Linked DNA regions of Homo sapiens. The protein of the gene in region 1 purifies or fractionates together with the protein of each later gene. This does not show direct contact. Each region holds a gene or a part of one and is shown on either strand. Other genes may lie near its edges.

Region 1 (7,286 bases):
TACATGGCTATAAGAAAGCAAGTGAGAGACAATCAAGCACACACCAGGCTGGGAAGGACTGAGACAGGTGTCAGAACCTAAGCCTAACCCCACTGCCTTGGCCTCCTGACATCTGCGGGGATGAGGGGGCCAGGACCCATACAGGCAGGCACAGGGGTGGTAGGAAGGGCTACTCCTGTGGCACAGAGCCATTTGTGGGCTGCTGCCCAGTCAGGGACAAGATTTCTATACCAGTGACACCTCACATTCTCCCTTCTTTGGTAGAACCCTGGGACTGGAGAGGTGTTGGCTTCCAGCAAGGGCTCAATAAATCCTGACCACCGATTGAACAGTAGGATGAAAAGAAAGAACACTTACTGGTATATCTTCTGTAGAAGCAAGTGTGCCACTTTCAAAAGAACTAGGAAGGAAAAAAGACAGAAATGCAATAGAGCTTATCAAAATGTGCATGCTTATGCTTTATCTCATTATGTGCAAGCCAATCTGAAATAAATGTAGAATCTAGGGACGGCAGGGGCATACTGCCAACAAAAAGTAAGTCTCCAGCTGGGTGTGGTGGCTCATGCCTGTAATCCCAGCACCTTGGGAGGCCGAGGCGGGTGGATTGCTTGAACCCAGGAGTTTGAGACCAGCCTGGGCAGCATGGTGAAACCCCATCTCTACAAAAAATACAAAAATTAGCCAGGTGTGGTGGCATGCACCTGTATTCCCAGCCAGGCATGGTGGCATGCACCTGTAGTCCCAGCTACTCGGGAAGCTGAGGTGGGAGGATCACCTGAGCCCAGGAGGTAGAGGCTGCAGTGAGCCGAGATCCTCACCACTGTACTCTAGCCTGGGCAACAGAGTGAGACCCTGTCTCAGAAAAAAAAAAAAAAAAAGTGAGTTTCCTTTTAAAGGAACCGCAATCCTTACCTGACCCACAGAGGAAGGCATCATACGCGGCTTCGTGGGGGCACTTTGTCTCAACTGAGGCATTTTCCACCAGGAGGACAGAGAATTGAGCAGTCATTAGAAACACGCCCCATCCTAGCTCACCATCCACAGTGGCTGCAGCTCATACAACCTCCCATGGTCCTGCATACCCTTCTCCAGGCCCACACACCAACTTCACCTTGGTCCTCCCCACGGTGGAGAAAGCCCCAAGATCAGAGCTGCCTTATAGACTAAGGACCACATTAAGGAGGAAATGGACAACTCCCAGGGCTCTTGGATGCATTCTGGGCTCGCTCATTTGGGGCAGGAGTTACATGGAGTAAGCAGAGTGAAGGAAAACCCCACACAAACCTCCCCCTCCCCTGCTGCCTGGGGCGGGGCAGGGGGAGAGGTGGGGGGGAGGGGAGGGGTGTGGGGGGGTGGGGAGGGGTGTGGCGGGTGGGTGGGGAGGGGTGTGGGGGAACCAGGGTCAAGGACAAGCTCAGCTGAGCACCTCAGCACTCTGCCGACTGTGCAAGGATTATGGGCTCATGGGAACGTACCATATTTCTCACACCTGCTCGCGTGAACAATCTCTGGTCCAGAATTCTTGGTGGGATTCAAGTCACTATTGGAAAAGAAAAATAGAATAAAAAACAATTTGCTGAAAGTAATCCCTTCTTGTATTCCCCCTCAGTCCCTTAAGTTAATATAAATTTTTTAAATGTACTGAGGACATATCTTTAAGGTGCAAATCTAAGCATGGACAGGTAAGATCTTAGTAACTGGGCAACAGGAAAGGGGAAAGAACAATGGTGCAGGAGGCCCCAGTGGAGTTACTCCAGGCATTTATCAAATGCTTCACTTGAGCCCAGGCACCAAGATAGACAAGATACTGTCTCTGTCCTCCGGAGCTGTCTAGTGGCCTGTCTAGCGACTACGGAGACAATTATGCCTGCCTCTTGTAAATGCAAGGCCTGAGGCATGACAGTCACGCCAGGACCCTGCAGGCTTCTGGAGGCAGACAGCACTCATGGAGAGTCCCAAACCACATGATCCAATGGAGTTCAAGGAATGGGGAGACGGCAGGCATTTCGAGCAGGCAAAGACAGTGAGGAAAAGGAGGAGGTCTGACCCCAGAAGCAGTGAGCTGAGAAGTGGGGCTGAAGCCTTTGTGTGAAGGGAGGGCCAAGAGGGTGGGGAGGAGCCCCTACAACAGGCAGGGGCTTCAGAAACCACAGAAAGACTGATCAGAAAAAAGAGCCCATTCAAATTCACATTCTAGATCATCACTCAAGGGGCGGTGTGGGGTATGAAGAGGGCAGGCCACAAGGCTGGGACACCACTCAGGGGCTACTACCACAGTTCCTTGGTTGGAATGAAAAGACAATAATCCTGAGAATGCAGAGAAAGGAGAGGTTTGAGAGACTTACAGGGTCAAGTCCATAAAACTTGACTCAACAGATGTGAGCAACTCAGCTCTGTGACCCCTTCTAGGTCTTGGCTCCAGGACCTGGGTGAATGGAGATGGTGTGTGACAAGGAAACCTTTGCTTCACTGGTTTTCAATAAGATGTTCTGGAACCTCACGTGCTTAGCCTCCTGACCCCTAATGTCCCCATCTGTAAAACAGGCGTCGTCGTCGTGGGTGTGCCATGAGCTGTCCTTTAGGATTGGGATAGTTGTCAACAGCAGCTAAGGTTCAACAGACCTGGACTACATGCAAGGGGCTGTTCTAAGTCCTTCCACATCTACAAACTCATTTAATCCTCACAACAACCTTGGAGTTACACACTATTTTCTCATCTCACAGATAGTTAAACTGAGGCACAGAGAGATTAAGTAATTCTCTCAAGGTCACTCACAGAACCAGTGAGTGGCAAAGCTGGGATTTAAACCCAGGAAGCCTGGAATCAGAGCCTGTGCATTTACAACAAAGCTCTCTCCCCGCTTTGCCCTCTCATGCACACACAGCCCTCAGTATCATGCCTGGTACCATCAAGACTTCTGAATTTGCAGGCACTAGAGTGTGCTTGAGGGACAGAGAGGAGGGTCAAGTTGAAGGTGCCCATAGGTCATGTAGGGTGGGAACATCAAGAAGACAGCTGGTAAACGCAGTGTCCTAGATGCTGAGGTCTGGACCGCAGCGGTACACAGGAGCTGGGAGTTGAAGCCCAGGGGGTGGATGAGGCCACATGGGAGCCTAGGAATGAGCAGGAACACGGTTGAGGAGGGGCCCTTGAGAGAAAACGTAGGAGACAGGTAGAGAACACGAATCACAAGGAATGGGTTTTAAAAAATCGCACACACACATCCAGAACAGGGTGCCATCCCTGTTCCAAACGCCTCTCGTGCCTCGTCCTGCTGACTGGGGACAGACTGGCGGCTCTGGGTGCCCCTGCGGAGAGCAGAGTGAAGGAGACAAGGCCCTGCCTGCCGTGGGCTGAGGAAAGAGGAGCATAGAGAGTTCAGGAGGCTTTGTCGTTAAGTTGGGAGAACACTTGTTGATGTGGAAGGAAATGAGAGGGAGACAGAAAGAGGTGGAGACACCCCGGGAAGGGGCAGGTAGGGGTGGGGAGTTGCTGAGCAGGGGTGAAGGTGACGAGTAGGTGGCAGCTCCTCCTGCCTGGCCTTGCACAGGGAAGGTGCTCCATTTGCTGGTGACAGGGGCGAGACAATGAAAAAGGGGACAGTAATCGCGCAACTGTTTGAGGGGCAGGGGTTGAGAGATTTCCTGTCTCTGGCTTCTCTCTCTTTGGAAACGGAGGCAAGAGGGTCATCGGAGGAAGGGGGCCATGAAGCAGGAGGAGCTGGAGGAGACCAAGTCCCAAGCAGGCATCACTGTGAATGGTGGGCACGCCTAGAGAGCCCAAAGGCCTGCGGAGCACAGGGAGGCCACCAAGGCCGCTCCAGCAGTAGCTCCAGGAATCGCCGTCCTCACCTGTTCAGGACTTCATAGACTTCCGAAAGATTCGACACCCTCGGGAAATTCATCTCCTACAATCATGGAAAACAAACCAGAGGAAAACATTTGCGCTTTTGTTTATTCTCTGTTTCAGGCAGTACCAAATGGTCATTAAAATGGCCTGGAAAATGCTCACTCCTACAACCTCCTCTTTCTCTTCAAATGGTGCAACCATCCTTATTCCTTAGTTAGGATGTCAGGGTACGCAGTATTCCTGGGTTTCCTAGAAGGACTCTCAAAAACCTAGGCTAGAAAAAAACTCTACACACACTATCTCCCTTAGAAAATGTGTTCAACAGATTACCCATAAACACAGGAAAGCAAGGCACGAGGACAAAGGCCAGGGACATACATGGAGCATACAGGCATTCTAAGGCCTAGAGGGCTTTGGGGCAATGCCTGGTTACTAAATCCTAAAAGTTCATAGTAGCTGGAAATACACCAACTACAAATAATAACAGCCTCTGGGCAAAGACAGACCACAGACCCCACTCCCATCTGTGCGGCATCCTTGCTGGATAATTCACTTGTAAGGGATCACTCTAAGGCTTCACAAGATTGATCTGATGCCCCCTTCTCTGTTCTTCAGTTGTTGTTTTTTTTCCCCTTGAGACAGGGTCTTCCTCTGTTGCCCAGGCTGGAATACAGGGGTGCAATCTCGGCTCACTGCAATCTCCACTTCCCGGGCTTTAAGTGATCCTCCCACTTACGCCTCCCAAGTAGCCAGGACTGGAGGTGTGCACCAACATGCCCAGGTAATTTTTGTATTTTTTGTAGAGATGGAGTTTCACCCATGTTGCTCAGACTAGTCTCAAATTCCTGGGCTCAAGCCATTCACCCACCTCAGCCTCCCAAAATGCTGGGATTACAGGTGTGAGCCACTGTGCCTGGCTATTCTCAGCTTCGTTTCTAAGCAGCATTTAAACCAGTCAGGTCGCTTTTCTCTATGCATAGTACACAGCCTCGACTCCACAACAGAATCACCCAGGGAGCTTTAGAAATACCACCTGGCCCCACTCTAGGTCAGACAAAAAGCTGCCAGTGCAGCCTGGCTATCAGCATTTTCAACTTTCCACGTGATTCCAACATGTTTTCAGGACTGAGAACCCATGACTGGAGGGCTCAATGAAGAAGAGGTTTTCTCAAGATTCTTCAGGAGGGAACCCCCTCCCCCCCAGTGCTCTGTACACATGTTGCAAATATTCCTAAGGCATGCATCAAGTTCTAAAATAAGTTGTTCTGTTGTCTGATCTAAATAAGCACAAAAACTCTACACAAATAAGTCAAAATGTGGAAACTGGAGGGAGAGAAAGGGAATAAGTCATATATAAGCTAATACAATGATGCACAGGTGCCAAAATACAAAAGGAAACTGATACTGGTTTGAAGAGAGAAAAGCAATCAAGGAACAACTTTAAAAAACACAAGTGGCAGGCCGGGCGCAGTGGCTCACCCCTGTAATCCCAGCACTTTGGGAGGCCGAGGCGGGTGGATCATGAGGTCAGGAGATCAAGACGATCCTGGCTAACATGGTGAAACCCCGTCTTTACTAAAAATACAAAAAAATTAGCAGGGCATGGTGGTGCGCACCTGTAATCCCAGCTACTCAGGAGGCTGAGGCAGGAGAATCGCTTGAACAAGGGAGTCAAAGGTTGCAGTGAGCTGAGATCGCGCCATTGCACTCCAGCCTGGCTTTGAGAGCAAGACTCCCTCTCAAACAAAACAAAACAAAACAAAACAAAACAAAAAAAACAAAAAAACACAAGAAAAAAACCCCACAAGAGAAAGCTAAGTGTTACTGGTATGGAAAAAGCAGTTCTTAACCCAAAGCAGTTCTATTCATTACCTTCCAGATATCCTTTGTTACACTCTTGGTATCAATGAGAACAGGAAATAGGCTGTGGATATTCTGCTTAAATTGATCGTAGCTTTCTGAGGGGAAAAACCCAGGTAGTCAAGAGTGAATTTGTTTGTTGGCAAAAATGGGAAGGAACATTCTTGAACCTAGCTTGCCACTGGCACTGATTAATAAAGCAAACTGAAACAAAACAGGAATTGAAAACACCATTAATCCTAGCCACTAAGGATTTCTAAACTCAGATCAAGCTGCCATCACCACTTTTAATAGTAAAGGCCGAACGGTTTTCTATTAAATTCAGGATGCATTCTATTGCCAACCGTAGTTAATGTAGTTTGCGAAGCTCTAGCCGATGGGATAAGACTTAAAAATAGAAGTATTATCAGAAAGGCAGACATGATATCATTTGTAAATAATTGCTCAGAGAAAAATCCAAGAAAAAAAATCAAAAATTATAACTAGTAAAGTGTCCTGATAAAAGAAAATTTATGCAAGAACTCAGTTGGTAAAGTTATCAGTTATACCTGCACCTAAAGAGGTTTATTGCAAAACACACACACTAAAAACAAAACCCTGTGATCTCTTCCCGCTACTCTCCCATTTCCTACTCCCCAAAGGCAACCACTCGCAGTTCTTTTCCTTTTGGTATTTATTCCCATCTCTCTCGCACATGCATGGTGTGGTGTTAGACACCTCACTCCCGACCTCCCACCGGCTGAGAGGGTGATGACCCCTCTCATTCCACCTCCACACACATGCCCGTATCGCCCCACGCGCGTCATTCACAAAAGGCTCTGTGGTGGCTACAATGACTTCTCCTTTCTTGCACAGCTTTTGTTCTCCCAGCGCTTATTTTGTTGTACTTAGTTTTTTGGTGAATGTGTATTATTAATTTCACTGCTAATTCTCCAACTCTCTCAATATGCCCAAACTCAGGTGTTTCATTGTTTCTTGGGGAAATGGCTCCTAAAACTTTCTTACCCCTCGTAATCTAGACTAGTGTTCTTTGTACGTTTATTAATTCATTTAATCTCACAACTCTGATATTGGCACTATTATCCCAATCTTACAATTAAGGTAATGTCAACTCGCTGGAGACTACGCACGTAGTGAGTGTGGGATGGATGAGATCACCAAGGCTCGAGGCCCCACTTTACCCACTAGGCTGCACCACTGAATGTCCAATAATGGAATCAACCATGAAACAGTAGGGGACAGCCAGAAGACAGTGTCACATGACACTGAAGCAGCATTTATTAGGTTTTTAACAACATAAAATAATGCTTTGGGTAAGTGGAAAAAAAGCCAAACAAAAATCAAATAGTGTAATCAAATATGTAAAAATTCAGGATACTAGCTGATTAAAGGTGACTTCTGACTTCATGCATTTCTGATTTTGCCAAGCTTCATACAATAACTCTGAACAGCTTCAGTAATGGGGAGAGGGGTATCAATTCAAATTTAAATTTTTTCCCCCTTGACAAAGTCTCCTGGTTTTCCACTCTGGGGAGACAGTAACAGATCAGAGTACAGGCCTCTGCCCAAACTCTCC
Region 2 (7,286 bases), on another chromosome or scaffold:
GAACATTCACAATCCTTTTAGTTTTTTGAAAATAACCAAAAATTATTAATCCCTTTACCCTATAGTGCTATAGAACACTAGAACTTATTCTGCCTATCTAGCGGTAATTTTGTATCTGTTAACCAACCTCTCCTTATTCTCCTCTCCTCTGTACCCTTCCCAGCCTCTAATAGCCACAATTCTAAGAGTATACTCATTTTATTTCACCTTTTTTGAATTAATTTTCATGTCAAACTGTACAGCACTCCAATTAATTAATGAACTCCCTCCTCATATCTGGACATTTTTAGCTATCATAAATAATGTTAAAGTAAACATTCTCCAACACAGATTTCTTTTCTTTTTCTTTTTTTTTTTGAAACAGGGTCTCACTTTGTCGTCCAGGCTGGAGTGCAGTGGTGAGATCTTGGCTCACTGCAACCTCGACCTCCCAGGCTCAAGCAATCCTCGCACCTCAGCATCTCAAGTAGTTAGGACTACAGGCACATGCCACCACTCCTGGCATATATATATATATATATATATATATATATATATATATATATATATATATGTGTGTATATATATATGTGTGTATATATATATATATATATACACACACACGTATATATATATATACGTGTATATATATATATATATAGCTGAGGTCTTACTATGTTGCCCAGGCTGGACTTGAACTCCTGGGCTCAAGTGATCCTCCTGCCTTGGCCTCCCAAAGTGCTGGGATAACAGGCGTGAGCCACCACGCCCGGCCTCTTATAATTATTTCCTCAGGATGGAGAATCTGATAGAGGTCAAAGAATATCAACACTTTAATGGCTTAGGATGAGGTCCTGCCAATTCCTCTAAAGAGTCCCACTTCACACTAGCAACATATGAATGGGTATGCTTACCTTAAAGAGACTATAGACCATTTCTTTAAATTTTTGTACAGTAGTTCCTCTAGTTGGCTTATCAAATAGCACTATTTCTTTTCTTGGTTCCAATTCAGTTCCAAAATCAAGATGAAGCGCTTGTTCCATTTGACATTTCACAACACCTGGTAGATTATCCCAAATCCCTAAATACATCTATGTAAAAAAGAGTGGCAAGTTATGTATTATACTGAGTAGAAAACTCTAAAAAATATACTACTATATTTTTAGGGTCCTCCTCCTCTGAACAAAACAAAACAAGCATCAAACATTGAGGTTAAGGTGTGACTTTATTTCTGAACTGCAAACTTGAAATCACACTCAAGATTTTTTCCTTAAACTAATTTTTTAAATTATAAGAGTAATGCATGCCTAAATATATTTTTCAAAAAGTCCAATGAGAAGGATGTAAGGCAAAAGCAAAGTTCCCAGACATTCTACTTCCATAATCCCACTTCCCCAGAATTAACTACTATTTAAGTATCTAGTTATTTATCAAACTAATATTATATAGTGTTAACTATGTCCTATGGTCTACTAATTTATTTTAGAGACAGGGTCTTGCTTTGTCACCCAGGCTGGGGTTCAGTGGCATAATCATAGCTCATTGCAGCCTCAAAGTCCTGAGCTCAAGGAATCTTCCTGCCTCAGTCTCCCAAGTAGCCAGGACTATAGGCATGTACCACTAAACCTGGCTAATTAAAAACATTTTTTGTAGAGATGGGGTCTTGCTGTATTGCTCAGGCTGGTCCTGAACTGCTAGCCTTAAGTGACCCACCTGCCTCAGCCTCTCAAGTTGCTGGGATTGTAGGTATGAGGCACCACACCTGGCTTTTACTGATTTATGTTATTATTTTAATCCTTGTACCAATCTTAGGTGGTAGGTACTATCATTATACTTATTTCACTGATGGGGAAACTGAAGCAGATACAGGTGAAGTAACATGCTGAAAAGAGCTGAGGTCTTTACCACTAGGATAGGTTGCCCCTCTTCTACATAAAAAAATAAATAAGATCATATTCATTCTTAATATTAATCCAAAGAAAACATTATTTCACTGCCTTGCTCCAAACCCTCTAATAAATTCCCCTTTCAATTAAAGTCCAAAGTCCTTTCCATGACCGGTTGGGCTCCATTTGAGCTAGCCTCGCCTATGTCTCCAACCTGATCTTGTACCACGTACTCCGTTTCTCAAAGTCCCAGCTACACTGGTCTTTCTGTGACAGGTTGAAGCTTGTTTCTGCTTCCTGACCTGCTTCACTTGCTGCTGGCTCTGCCTGGAATGTACTCTCCCAGATCTTCACATGGCTGGCTCCTTTACATCATTCAAGTCTCAGATTAGACATTGCATTTAGAAAGCCTTCCCTGACCCCCTGTCTAGAAGAGATCCTCTTCCACCCCCAGGTCACCTCTAACCCTGTTTCATTATCCTCATAGCCTTTTGCACTGTCTAAAATTATCATATTTATTTATTTATCAGTTCATTACTATCTGTCTCATCTCACATTAGAACATGAGGCCAGAGGCTTTATCTGTCTCCCTCAGTGCCTCAAACAGTGCCTGGCATGCAGGAGACACTCAAATGTTGGACTTTGTTTTAGAAATTGTCTTTAACATGATTAATACTGTCAACTGAAAAATTAGTTTAAATTTCTATAATAATAATGCATATTTATATAGGAAAATTTAGGAACCATAAGATGAACATTAAAATGCAATTTTCCACTGCTCCAGATGTTTCGTTGTATTTTCTTCTACCCCAATTAGATATTCTACTGTTTTATTCTTATTTCTCTGATGAAAAGTAAGGTAGAATTTTTTTTCATTATGTTCATCAGCTGTTTGCAGTTCTTTTGTGATTTAGTTCATCCTGTCCTTTTCCCATGCCTATGAATTTTTTATTAAGGTATAAGTTCAAATATTATTTCAGAAAGGTCTTCTCTGATCACATCCTCTAAAGCACTTCTCACCATCCCTTACACTGCATTCTCTATCAATTTGCCCTCTGTGTCTCCTACAGAACACACCATATTCTACAATTATTTTGTTTGTTTATTTATTTATTTATCAACTGTTTGTACCTCCTGTCCCTCTGGAATCATGTAAGGTCTGTAAGGGAAGCAATCTTGTCTGGTTTTTTTTTGTTTTTTTTTTTTTTTTTGAGACAGGGTGTCACTCTGTCACCCAGGCTGGAGTGCAGTGACATGAACACGGCTCACTGCAGCCCTGACCTCCTGGGCTCAAGTGATTGTCCCACCTCAGCCTCCCGAGTAGCTGGGACCATAGGTGTGTGCCACCACACCCAGCTAATACATATATATTTTTTGAGACAGTCTCGCTCTATTGTCCAGGCTGGAGTGCAGTGATGTGAGATCTTGGCTCACTGGAACCTCCGCCTCCCAGGTTCAAGCGATTCTTGTGCCTCAGCCTCTGGAGTTGCTGGGATTACAGGCATGTGCCACCACACCCGGCTAATTTTTTGTGTTTTTAGTAGAGAGGGGGTATCGCAATGTTGCTCAGGTTGGTCTTGAATGCCTGGCCTCAAGTGACCTACCGCCTCAGCCTCCCAAAGTGCTGGGATTACAGGTGTATGCCACTGTGCCTGGCCACCCAGCTAATTTTTGTATTTTTTGTAGAGACAGGGTTTTGCTATGTTGCTCAGGTAGGCCTCAAACTCCTGGACTAAAGCAATCCACCCACCTTGGCCTCCTGAAGTGCTGGGATTACAGGCCCGTGCCACGGGCCCGGCTGTTTGTATTTTTTTATTTTTATTTTTTATTTTTTGAGACACTCACTCACTCTGTCACCCAGGCTGGAGTGCAGTGGTGGGACCATAGCTCACTGCAGCCTCAACCTCCTGGGCTCAAGCAATCTTCCCACTTCAGCCTCCTGAGTAGCTAGAACCACAGGTGTGTGCCACCACACCTGGCATTTTTTTTAAATTTTGGAGAGACAGGGTCTCACTACATTGCCCAGGCTGGTCTCAGACTCCTGGGCGCAAGTGGTCCTCCCATCTCAGCCTCCCAAAGTGTTGGGATTACATGCGTGAGCCACCGCACCAGGTTGCCTTAATCACCATTGTATTCCTGGTAACTGAAACAGCATCTAACATCAAAGTGCTGACAGAAAAAAAAAAACAAAACAAAACAGTGTCTGGAATATACTGGGGATAGATTAATAAATATCTTTTGACTGGCCAGGTGTGGTGGCTGACATCTATAATCCCAGCACTTTGGAAGGCCAAGGCGGGTGGATTGCTTGAGCTCAGGAGTTCGAGACCAGCCTGGGCAACATGGCGGGACTCTGTTTCTACAAAAATACAAAAAATTAGCCAAGTGTGGTTGTGTGAGCCTGTAGTCCCAGCTACATGGGAGGCTGAGGTGGGAGGCTCACTTGAGCCTGGGAAGTGGAGGTTGCAGTGAGCAGAGATCTCACCACTGTACTCCAGCCTGGACAACAGATCCTGTCTCAAAAAATTAAAATAAAATAAATGTCTGTTTAATGAATGAATCAAAGCATACAAAATTGAAATACATATAATGTCTCAAAGCTTTGGTTCAAGAATTCTTTTAATAATGCCTTTAATTTCTGGTAAAATTAGAGTACACTATAATTCTGGAATGTTTATTCATAATGGCCATACCTGATTGTTGGGCTTGGTGGATAAACATTTTCCAAAGTAAAGAGTTTCTGTAACACAAAGGCTGTTACATGCAGGCCCATCAATAACTCCAGTCTTGTACTTGTCACACTAAAAACCAGGAAATAAAAAAGTAGTTAATAGAAAAATATTCACAAGAAGAAGCATAAAGAGATATCTATATCCTTTATGAGTAAGTTCTATGACAAAAAGAACTGAGGCTTTGGACTTAGACAGACCTGGATTTGATCTAAGCTCTGTTACTTATACCTATATGATTATGAGAAAGCTTGTTGCTGCTGGGGTGTGCGTAGAATTTTGAAACTATTTTTCCCACATGACATGGTCTAAGGTGGTATGTTACCTACTCCTTCCAAGAATAGAGGCACTCTATCTTTAAAAATGGTTCCGGTTTTAGGCCAGGCACCGTGGCTCACGCTTGTAATCCCAGCACTTTGGGAGGCCGAGGCTGGTGGATCATTTGAGGTCAGGAGTTCGAGACCAGCCTGGCTAACATGGTGAAACCCCATCTCTACTAAAATAAAAAAATGAGCCAGGCGTGGTGGCGGGCGCCTGTAATGCCAGCTACTCGGGAGGCTGAGGCAGAAGAATCACTTGAGCCTGGGAGGCAGAGGTTGTGGTGAGCCGAGATCATGCCACTGCACTCCAGCCTGGGTGAGAGAGTGAGACCCTATCTCAAAAAAAAAAAAAAAAAAAACTTCTGGTTTTAAAATAAATAAAGTTTAGAATAACAAAATAAAGTTACCTCTGTCACATTGTCATCCTTGAGATCACCCAAAAACAAGAAAGGGAAAAAAACCCATCCACTCTCTGAAAAAATATGGTACCAATGAAACCCTAGGCACAATAAATGAGGATGACCTGCCAAATTCAGTGAAGATTACACCAGAGCCTACAAGTATGCTGAGATTAAACACCTGCTGTGGTCCCCACTCTCAGACAAAGTTGGCAGAGCACCAAGTAGGTGGTACATCTGCAGAGCACAACCATTATCCTGGTTGCAACAAAGATTTAAGGGGCACAAGCTGTGGGAACTTCCCAGAACTCTATTTGGCACCATGAAATAGTAAGATAAGACAGGCCTGAATGATAAAATGCTCAGAAATGTTCTCTTTGCTGGAGGCAGTCTGTTGATGAACTACGGTTGGGAGAGAGGGCCAGAAGCAGCTTCACTACCAGCTCAGTTCACTGCCCAGTTGCTTCCCGCACATGGCTGGCTGAAGGAGACCTCATTTCACTCAGTAATGAGTAATAATCAAAACCAAACAAGCAAAAGATCTATACAGCAAATCTACAAGAATTAGGAAGAATGGAATAGGAAAAGCAAATGTCAGATAAAAAAAATTTTCTAGGCAGGGTGCAGTGGCTCACGCCTATAATCCCAGCACTTTGGGGGGCCGAGGCAGGTGGATCACCTGAGGTCAGGAGTTCGAGACGAGCCTGACAAACATGGAGAAACCCCGCCTCTACTAAAAATACAAAATTAGCTGGGCGTGGTGGCGCATGCCTGTAATCTCAAGTATTCAGGAGGCTGCGGTGGAAGAGTCGCTTGAACCCTGCGGGGGCGGAGGTTGCAGTGAGCCGAGATCACACCATTGCACTCCAGCCTGGGCAAGAAGAGCGAATCTCCGTCTCAAAAAAAAAGAAAAAAATTTCTAGAAGAATGTTGCTATGAAACAGACCAAACATATTGTTATGAATTTAAAGGACTTACTGAACCAGTTTAAAATAAGACTTCAAAGCAGAAGAAATGATGAGGCAATAGAAGGAAGTTTAAAATAAGCTAACAGAACTCAGACAGGAAGGAAAATAAAACATCTAGAAATAAAAGCCACATTATAAATGAGGGGAAAGACAGACAGGGATAAAACACAGTAAGATTTAGGAGGACTAGGCCAGGCGTGGTGGCTCATCCCTGTAATAACAGCACTTTGGGAGGCTGGGCAGGCAGATCGCTTGAGCTCAGGAGTTCAAGAGCAGCCTGGGCAATACAGCAAGACCCCATCTCTACAAATAATACAAAAGAATTAGCTGGGTTTGGGGGCACATATATGTAGTACTAGCTACTTGGGAGGCTGAGGTAGGAGGATCGCTTTAGCCTGGGAGGCAGAGGTTGCAGTGAGCCAAGATCACACGACTGTACTCCAGCCTGGGTGACAGAGTGAGACCCTGTCTTAAACAAACAAAAACAATAACAACAACAAAAAACTTTGGAGGACAAGGTTGAGAAATGCAAGCAAAATGAAATGGAAATTTAAAAATAATAAAATGAATTTAAGATAAATGTATAGATAAAAAAGACAAAGTATATCCACCATGTCCATATGAAGGAGAATGGGAACTGAAGGAGAATGGGAACAAGTGGAAAAGAAAAAATATTCAAAGTAGAATTCAAGGGAAACTTCACATAAATTAAAACACTTTAATCTATAGATTGAAAGGACATACAATGAATGTCCCAAGAAAAACTGACAAGAATGACCCCTGTGACATATCCCACTGAGGTTCACTGGACTTCAAAAATAAGTTATCCTTTGAGCATCCAGGCAAAAAGATCAAGGCACCTTTAAGGGGAAACCAATCAGATTGGCCCCAGATTTCTCCATAGCCACATTCAATAGTAGACAACAGTGGTGCAATGCCAGCGGAGGCTTTGGGGAAGGAAGTGAGACTCGCCTGTGTCCTAATAGTCTCATCTGTGAAGGGGATG
Region 3 (7,211 bases), on another chromosome or scaffold:
ACTACAAGCGTCTGCCATGACGCCCAGCTAATTTTTTTATTTTTAGTAGGGACGGGGTTTTGCCATGTTGGCTAGGCTGGTCTTGAACTCCTGACCTCAGGTGATCCGCCCGCCTCCGCCTCCCAAAATGCTGGTATTACAGGCATGAGCCACCGGGATTACAGGCAGGAGCCACTTGGGAGCCCAAGGTGGGCGGATCACCTGAGGTCAGGAGTTCGAGACAAGCCTGACCAACGTGGTAAACCCCATCTCTACTAAAAATAGAAAAAACTTAGCTGGGAGTGGTGACAGGCACCTGTAGTCCCAGCTACTCAGGAGGCTGGGACAGGTGAACCCCATCTCTACTAAAAATAGAAAAAACTTAGCTGGGCGTGGTGACAGGCACCTGTAGTCCCAGCTACTCGGAAGGCTGGGACAGGAGAATTGCTTGAACCCGGGAGGCAGAGGTTGCAGTGAGCCGAGATCGAACCACTGCACTCCAACCTAGATGACAGAGTGAGACTCCGTCTCAAAAAAAAAAAAAAGATTTTAATCAACAGATAATTAATATTTTATTACATAATAAAGATGAAACACAATTCCATATCTTTCATAGAAGCTGAACCGACACAAGGATTTCTAACTAATTATGTTCTTTTACTACTAATGAGGTGAAGCATATGCCAGAATAATGTTTCTTGTTTTTTGTTTTTTTGCTGCTGTTGTTTTTTTGACAGGGTCTCATTCTCAGCCAGGCTTGAGTGCAGTGGCTTGATCACAGCTCACTGCAGCCTCAACCTCTTTGGCTCAGGTGATCCTCCCACCTCAGCCTCCCAGGTAGCTGGAACTACAGGTGCACGCCACCATGCCCAGCTATTTTTTGTATTTTTTAGTAGTGGCGGGGCTTCACCATGTTGCCAAGGCTGGTCTTGAACTCCTGGGCTCGAGCGATCTGCCGGCCTTGGCCTCCCAAAAAGCTGGGATTACAGGCATGAGCCACCTCGATCAGCCTCAGAAGAATGTTTTAAAAATAGACTGCATGTATTTTTTTGGTTTCAAGTAGAGAAGTTTTAAGGCCTTCTGTTTTATATTGTTCTTACATCTTGGCAGCACTTTTTCCTGGGAACATGGAAAGCACATGATTAATTTCAAGATGGAAATATCAGAAATCATGTTCGACTCATCATTTATCACATCCAATTTGTCATCAGGCCCTGTAGATTTCATTTCCAGCATCTTTTGAATTCATTCTCTTTGAACATTTTTATTTTCATTGCCTCATACCAGGCCTTTATTTTCTTACTCAGTTTACTATAAAAGCCTCCTAAACTACATTTGCTAAAGACTTAACTTTTTAAAACAAAGAACATTTCACATTATGTCCTTAAAATATCCATTGCATAGAGAAGAGGTCCTCAAACTTCTAGAGAAGGCGGAAAATCACACGGCTCTTTGAATAGCTCATAAGTAAAAGACAATTTGGGAAAATTTGGGTTCTTTAGGACTGGTCAGGGTGACGCAAAATGTAATGAAATGCTCCTTCACATCTTGCATAAGAAACTAGCAGCCCATGGTTTTGCAGTGATAAAACAATCAGAGTATCGTCTGAAATCATCTTACAACCATATGTCCACTAGCCATCTGGAAACAGCTGGCCTTAGGAATTAGGAAATGGCCTACTGAAAACTCAGCTGTAATGCCTGCTGCAAGGCAACATCTTGAGTAGTTCAGGTTCTAATTCTTCTTGAATGAAATATAGATTTTTAATAAAAACAGCCTATTTTTCTCACAGTAAGATTACACTGGTTTGAGAATAAGATGCTCCACTCTCATTATCCTTATGTGTTTTTTGTTTGTTTGTTTTGTGTGATGGAGTTTCGCTCTTGTTGCCCAGGCTGGAATGCAATGGCATGATCTCGGCTCACCGCAACCTCCACCTCCCAGGTTCAAGCAATTCTCCTGCCTCAGCCTCCCGAGTAGCTGGGATTACAGGCATGCGCCACCACGCCCGGCTAATTTTGTATTTTTAGCAGAGATGGGGTTTCTCCATGTTGGTCAGGCTGGTCTCGAACTCCTGACCTCAGGTGATCCACCTGCCTCAGCCTCCCAAAGTGTTGGGATTACAGGCATGAGCCACCGTGCCCGGCCCTAATGTGGGTTTTTAGGGTTCAAGAGAAGAATGTTTCTACTAGGGCATAATTATCTCTATCTTATCTTATATTTCCATTTGTTATTTTAAGAAGCTATTTTTTTTCTATCATTTTTCTTTCCCCTGTTATTGTAGAGGTCAGGCAAACTTAAAATTTAGTCCATTAGTCAACTTGAGGTGACCGTGAAGAAACTGTAGGATATTAAGACTCTAGACTTAGAAAACAGCAGACCTCAATAGCTACTATATGTTTTCCAAGAGGTGCAGCTCTTTCAGTCAGCTGATCTGATAAGCAGCATACTCAGGTACTGTTGCTCATGTCCAGGGACCCTACCATATCCTGTGGTTTTCAGGGTCCTTATATTCTGTGCTCTCTTGGCTCTGGCACCAGGCCTTTTCTGGTCCACTGTTTCTAACTCCTGGTAAAGTGTTGTTTTAAGGCAAAAAACATCTTTACGGGGAACCAGACATAAAAAGAGTTCCTGGAGGCCCTGCGTGGTAGCTCATGCCTGTAATCCCAGCACTTTGTGGGGCTGAGGCCGGTGGATCACTTGAGGTCAGGATTTCAAGACCAGCCTGGGCAACATGGTGAAACCACACCCCTCCACTTCTCTACTAAAAGTACAAAAAATTATCCGGGCGTGGTGGTGGGCACCTGTAAACCCAGCACTTCGGGGGGCCAAGGTGGGCGGATCACTTGAGGCCAGGAGTTGGAGACTAGCCTGGCCAACCAACATGGTGAAATCCCATCTCTACTAAAAATATGAAAATTAAGTGGTGGCTTGCGCCTGTAGTCCCAGCTACTGGGAAGGCCGAGGCACGAAAATCGCTTTAACCTGGGAGGCGGAGGTTGCAGTGAACCTAGATCGAGTCATTGCATTCCAGCCTGGGCGACAGAGCGAGACTCTGTCTCAAAAAAAAAAAAAAAAAGTTCCTGGAACCGTTTCTGCACATCACTGAAAAATGATAGCCTCTCCCCAAATATCCTAACTTAAAGGTGCTATTAGGAGAATCTTGCTGCCTGCTAATAATGGGGTGTCCATAATTACCCCATGACTTCAGTGAATTCTCGTGCCTGTTTCTCCCGATCTAAAATGGGTATATTTCATTTACTAAATTTACTTCTGAGTACTGTTGGGGAAAAGATCCCGGTGTTTGTTGAAGAATGCTAGATATAATGAAAGTTAAACACAGTTTAACAAATTAAAATTATTCCCTATTGCTCTGTAATATCTAATTGCACACTGCTCTACCCCAGACCATTGTATTATCTCCCCGCCCCCCCCCCCAGAATATCATGAAATGCAACATATTTGCTAAACCAGTTTTGGTGATTTAAAACAAGTTCCAAGCACAAGCTTCTTTCTTGTAATGGTCAAGTGGCCTACGAAACCAAAGCGCCAACTGAGAACGTTTTGCTGCTGCACTCTGAAATCCCAGCGAGAACGCAGGCAGCGATGGCAGTTCTGGAGCACCGGGTTCCACTTCTGCCTCTGACCGGCTTTGTGACTTCCACCACATTAGATCTGAGTTTCCTCCATGTAAAATGGGGCGGGAATGGAGGCTGGACCTGGGAGGTGTCGCTGATGATCGTCTCTGACTCGCTAAGTCGCGGAGTCACAAAAGTGGCGGAAAGCATGCCCTCACTTTTTGGGAAGAGTAGGACGAGGGGCGGGGCTGCAGCGAGACCCACCAGTCTCGCTTTCCAGGGCAGGCGGCGGCCAGGAGCTACAGCTGTGGGCTGCACTCCCGGCGTGGAGTCTCCTTCCTGCCCGCGCAGGCCCCGGCGCCCCAGCGAAACGCTCCGGCCGCTCCCCTCTCCCAACACTCTGGTTCCCGGGCCGCCTGCGGGGACGCGGTTGGCGGCGACACCGGAGGGGGGTGGGTCAGGAAGTGGGGGCGCGGCGGCCAGGAGCGGGCCCCCGGAGGCCGAGGGGTTCGGCGACGCGGAGGGAGGGAGAGTCTGGGCCGCGCGGGAGCCGCAGGGCGCCCTAGCCTTCGCAGAAACGATGGCGGAGGAAGAAGGTGATTGCCGCGGGGTCCAGCGCGCCAACGGCTGCCAGTGGTCTCGGGAAGGAGGGGCGGGGGCGCTGGAGGTCTGGGTTGGAGCTGCTGGTGGCCGCGGTCGCGGTGGCGGCCGCGCGGGCAGGGCGGGAAGGAGCGCGGCGCCCAGGAGAGGACTGCGGAGAAATTCAGGAGAGCGGAGCAAATGGCCCGAAGTTTTGTCGGCCGAATTGGGAAGCAAAGGTGGAGCTGAAAGTTGGGAATCCGTAGCAAGAGAGAAAGCTGTGCCGGGAGTGGTTGGGAAAGAGGGAGGGTCCTGATCAGATTCTTGGTGAAGTGGGAGGCGCAGTTTGGTTTCGAAGATCAGGTTTAGGTACTCAGTGCATATTTGGAATGCGATTTTTAAAGGGCTGTGGATATTGACAAACCCAGAGGCACAGGGGGCGAGGGAACATTCACCACGGGGATAAAGAGGCAGGGATTTGGGATAAACGTGGCAAGATTAATTGGGAATGGGCGAACACGCAGAAACTGAAGAAAGCCAAGTTCACTTAGGTTCAGGGGAAAATGGTAAAGAGCAGAGCCATCTAATTATTATAGTTTTGGGAGATGATGAGGCCAGGAGGCCTTTGAGGGTCAAAGTGGGTGAGCTGGAGAAAGGTTTCCATGCCGCCTTCAGGATCAATGCTAAGATAAGTAATTCATTCAGCAGTATTTTATTTATAGAAAATGATAAGTATGAGACAAAAATGGGAAGTTAGATGAAACTTATCGGTTAGTGATAAACAATACAAGGAATACTCATGGCATAGTAACTTCATGATAACCCCTACTAGTTTCAGGAAGTGAGAAGCAATTAGATTTTTGCATTCTGGTGGAAAACACAACTTTTTACCTTATGAGTGGAGCTGTGGATGTGATAGTAAATCGATCTAATTTAGACTCAAGCCCCCCTGCCTTTTTTTTTTTTGAAACGGAGTTTCGTTCTTGTTGCCCAGTCTAGAGTGCAAAGGCGCGATCTCGGTTCACCGCAACCTCCGCTTCCTGGATTCAAGCGATTCTCCTGCCTCAGCCTCCCTAGTAGCTGGGATTACAGGCATGCGCCATCACGCCCGGTTAATGTTATATTTTGAGTAGAGACGGGGTTTCTCCATGTTGGTCAGGCTGGTCTTGAACTTCTGACCTCAGGTGATCCGCCCACCTCGGCCTCCCAGAGTGCTGGGATTACAGGCGTGAGCCACGGGTCCAGCCGACTCAAGCCTTTCTGAATCAAGAGTGCAAGGAAGGAGTTTAAAGGATTCAGCGGAAAGCAATTTTTAAAAATTAAGCATAAGAAGTGTTTACTGATGTGTGACTTGCTGACCTGTCCCTATGCAGGCTTGGTTCATATTTGTTTCCATTGAGTTTTCAGAGTGTTAAAGCTGGTCTGAATTTAAGACATTCTAACTAAAAACAGCTTCAAAAACAAAGCTATTTGTCGTTGGTGAGAAAGAATGTAATTCCATTTGTTTACTTGGTTCTGTCTGTGGTTACAGTATATCATCATTTGAAATATTTCTTGATGTATTTTTCTTTTCTAATTGCAAATTTATGGGGGTAGGTTGATATACTAGCTTGTAGGTTCCTATGAGTACATTCATGCTTAACTTAAAGCATTAAAAAAGTTAAGACTGCATTAAAAAATCAGTACTACAATACTGAAAGTCTTTAATACATCATGCAAAATGAAAAATTATTTTAGACTATGGTTGTACTTAAATAGATCTGTGGAGCCAATATTAAAAGATTGTACCGTTTTGTAAATTTTACTTACGTGATGTAAAATGATAAATGGGCGGGGCATGATGGCTCATGCCTGTAGTCCCAGCACTTTGGGAGGCCAAGGCGAGTGGATCACTTGAAGTCAGAAGTTCGAGACCAGCCTGGCTAACACAGTGAAACCCCATCTCTACTAAAAATACAAAAATCAGCCGGGTGGAGTGGCAAGTGTCTGTAGTCCCAGCTACTCAGGAGGCTGAGATAGGAGAATCACTTGAACCCGGGAGGCGGAGGTTGCAGTGAGCCAAGATTGCACCATTGCACTCCAGCCTGGGTGACAGAGTGAGACTCCATCTAAAAAAAAATAAAATTAAGGCCGGGCAAGGTGGCTCACGCCTGTAATCCTAACACTTTGGGAGGCCAAGGTGGGCGGATCACGAGGTCAGGAGTTCGAGACCAGCCTGGCCAATATGGTGAAACCCTGTCTCTACTAAAAAATACAAAAGTTAGCCGGGCATGGTGGCGCATGCCTATAGTCCCAGCTACCCGGGAGGCTGAGGCAAGAGAATCGATGGAACCCAGGAGGCCGAGGTTGCAGTGAGACGAGATCGCCCCACTGCACTCCAGCCTGGGTGACAGAGTGAGACTCCCTCTCAAAAATAAAATAAATAAAATGATAAATGATTTTTGGTTGTAGAATTACATATAATTCAAAAGCAGTTAAATACATCTTACATGGGACAATTAATGGGTTGTAATTTATTAAAATATTGCTTTATTCAACACATTTCTAATTCCATAAATATGTGTATTCATACCCTATTAGATGCAAGGATATAATAGTCAACAATGAATGAGTAAATTTTCATTTATTATAATGCTAGTAATAATAATACATATAGCAAACCTGTCTGTCTATGTGCCAGGCATTCTGAGTGTTTTATGTTTATTTGTCACTCTATACTTTTTTTCCCCCAGAATCCGTATTATCTTTTGTTCGCTGTGTTAAAATTAGACTAAATAGTCTGTGTATTTTACTTGTATCCAGGTGTTCTCCGCGTCCCATCTTGCTTACCATTCACATTCACTTGGATCCTCTTCATTGTCCAAGTAAATACTCTGGGAATCTGGTCTTTAAAAAAATGTCTTCCTTGATGCAGTAGAGGGCCAGGGTGTTTATATTTATGCTTTCTGAACGCAATGTTAGAGCAAAGAAAGAAGTGACAACCTTGAGTAGAGCAGTATTAACATTTCACTTGGAAACTGCTATGTCTAGCCTGGATAGACATTTGAAAGTCTGTTTGTAGCCCTACTGTTTCAT

What was found. Proteins that work in one complex are often made in the same cells at the same time.
Region 2: the proteins of PNLDC1 (region 1) and DIPK1A purify together in Homo sapiens (affinity purification with mass spectrometry; 2 studies listed by BioGRID and IntAct, with this or other methods). This does not show direct contact.
Region 3: the proteins of PNLDC1 (region 1) and DPY19L4 purify together in Homo sapiens (affinity purification with mass spectrometry; 2 studies listed by BioGRID and IntAct, with this or other methods). This does not show direct contact.

Annotation. Positions count from the first base shown.
Region 1 is NC_000006.12:159,810,223-159,817,508, reverse strand, and holds part of PNLDC1 (poly(A)-specific ribonuclease PNLDC1), read right to left. Parts: intron 5,809-7,286; coding exon 5,723-5,808; intron 3,909-5,722; coding exon 3,853-3,908; intron 1,541-3,852; coding exon 1,476-1,540; intron 967-1,475; coding exon 913-966; intron 401-912; coding exon 358-400; intron 1-357. UniProt on the Homo sapiens protein: 3'-exoribonuclease that has a preference for poly(A) tails of mRNAs, thereby efficiently degrading poly(A) tails.
Region 2 is NC_000001.11:92,846,290-92,853,575, forward strand, and holds part of DIPK1A (divergent protein kinase domain 1A), read right to left. Parts: intron 4,667-7,286; coding exon 4,559-4,666; intron 1,071-4,558; coding exon 894-1,070; intron 1-893.
Region 3 is NC_000008.11:94,715,862-94,723,072, forward strand, and holds the start of DPY19L4 (probable C-mannosyltransferase DPY19L4), read left to right. Parts: upstream 1-4,038; 5' UTR 4,039-4,137; coding exon 4,138-4,153; coding exon of another isoform or gene 4,154-4,375; intron 4,376-7,211. UniProt on the Homo sapiens protein: Probable C-mannosyltransferase that mediates C-mannosylation of tryptophan residues on target proteins.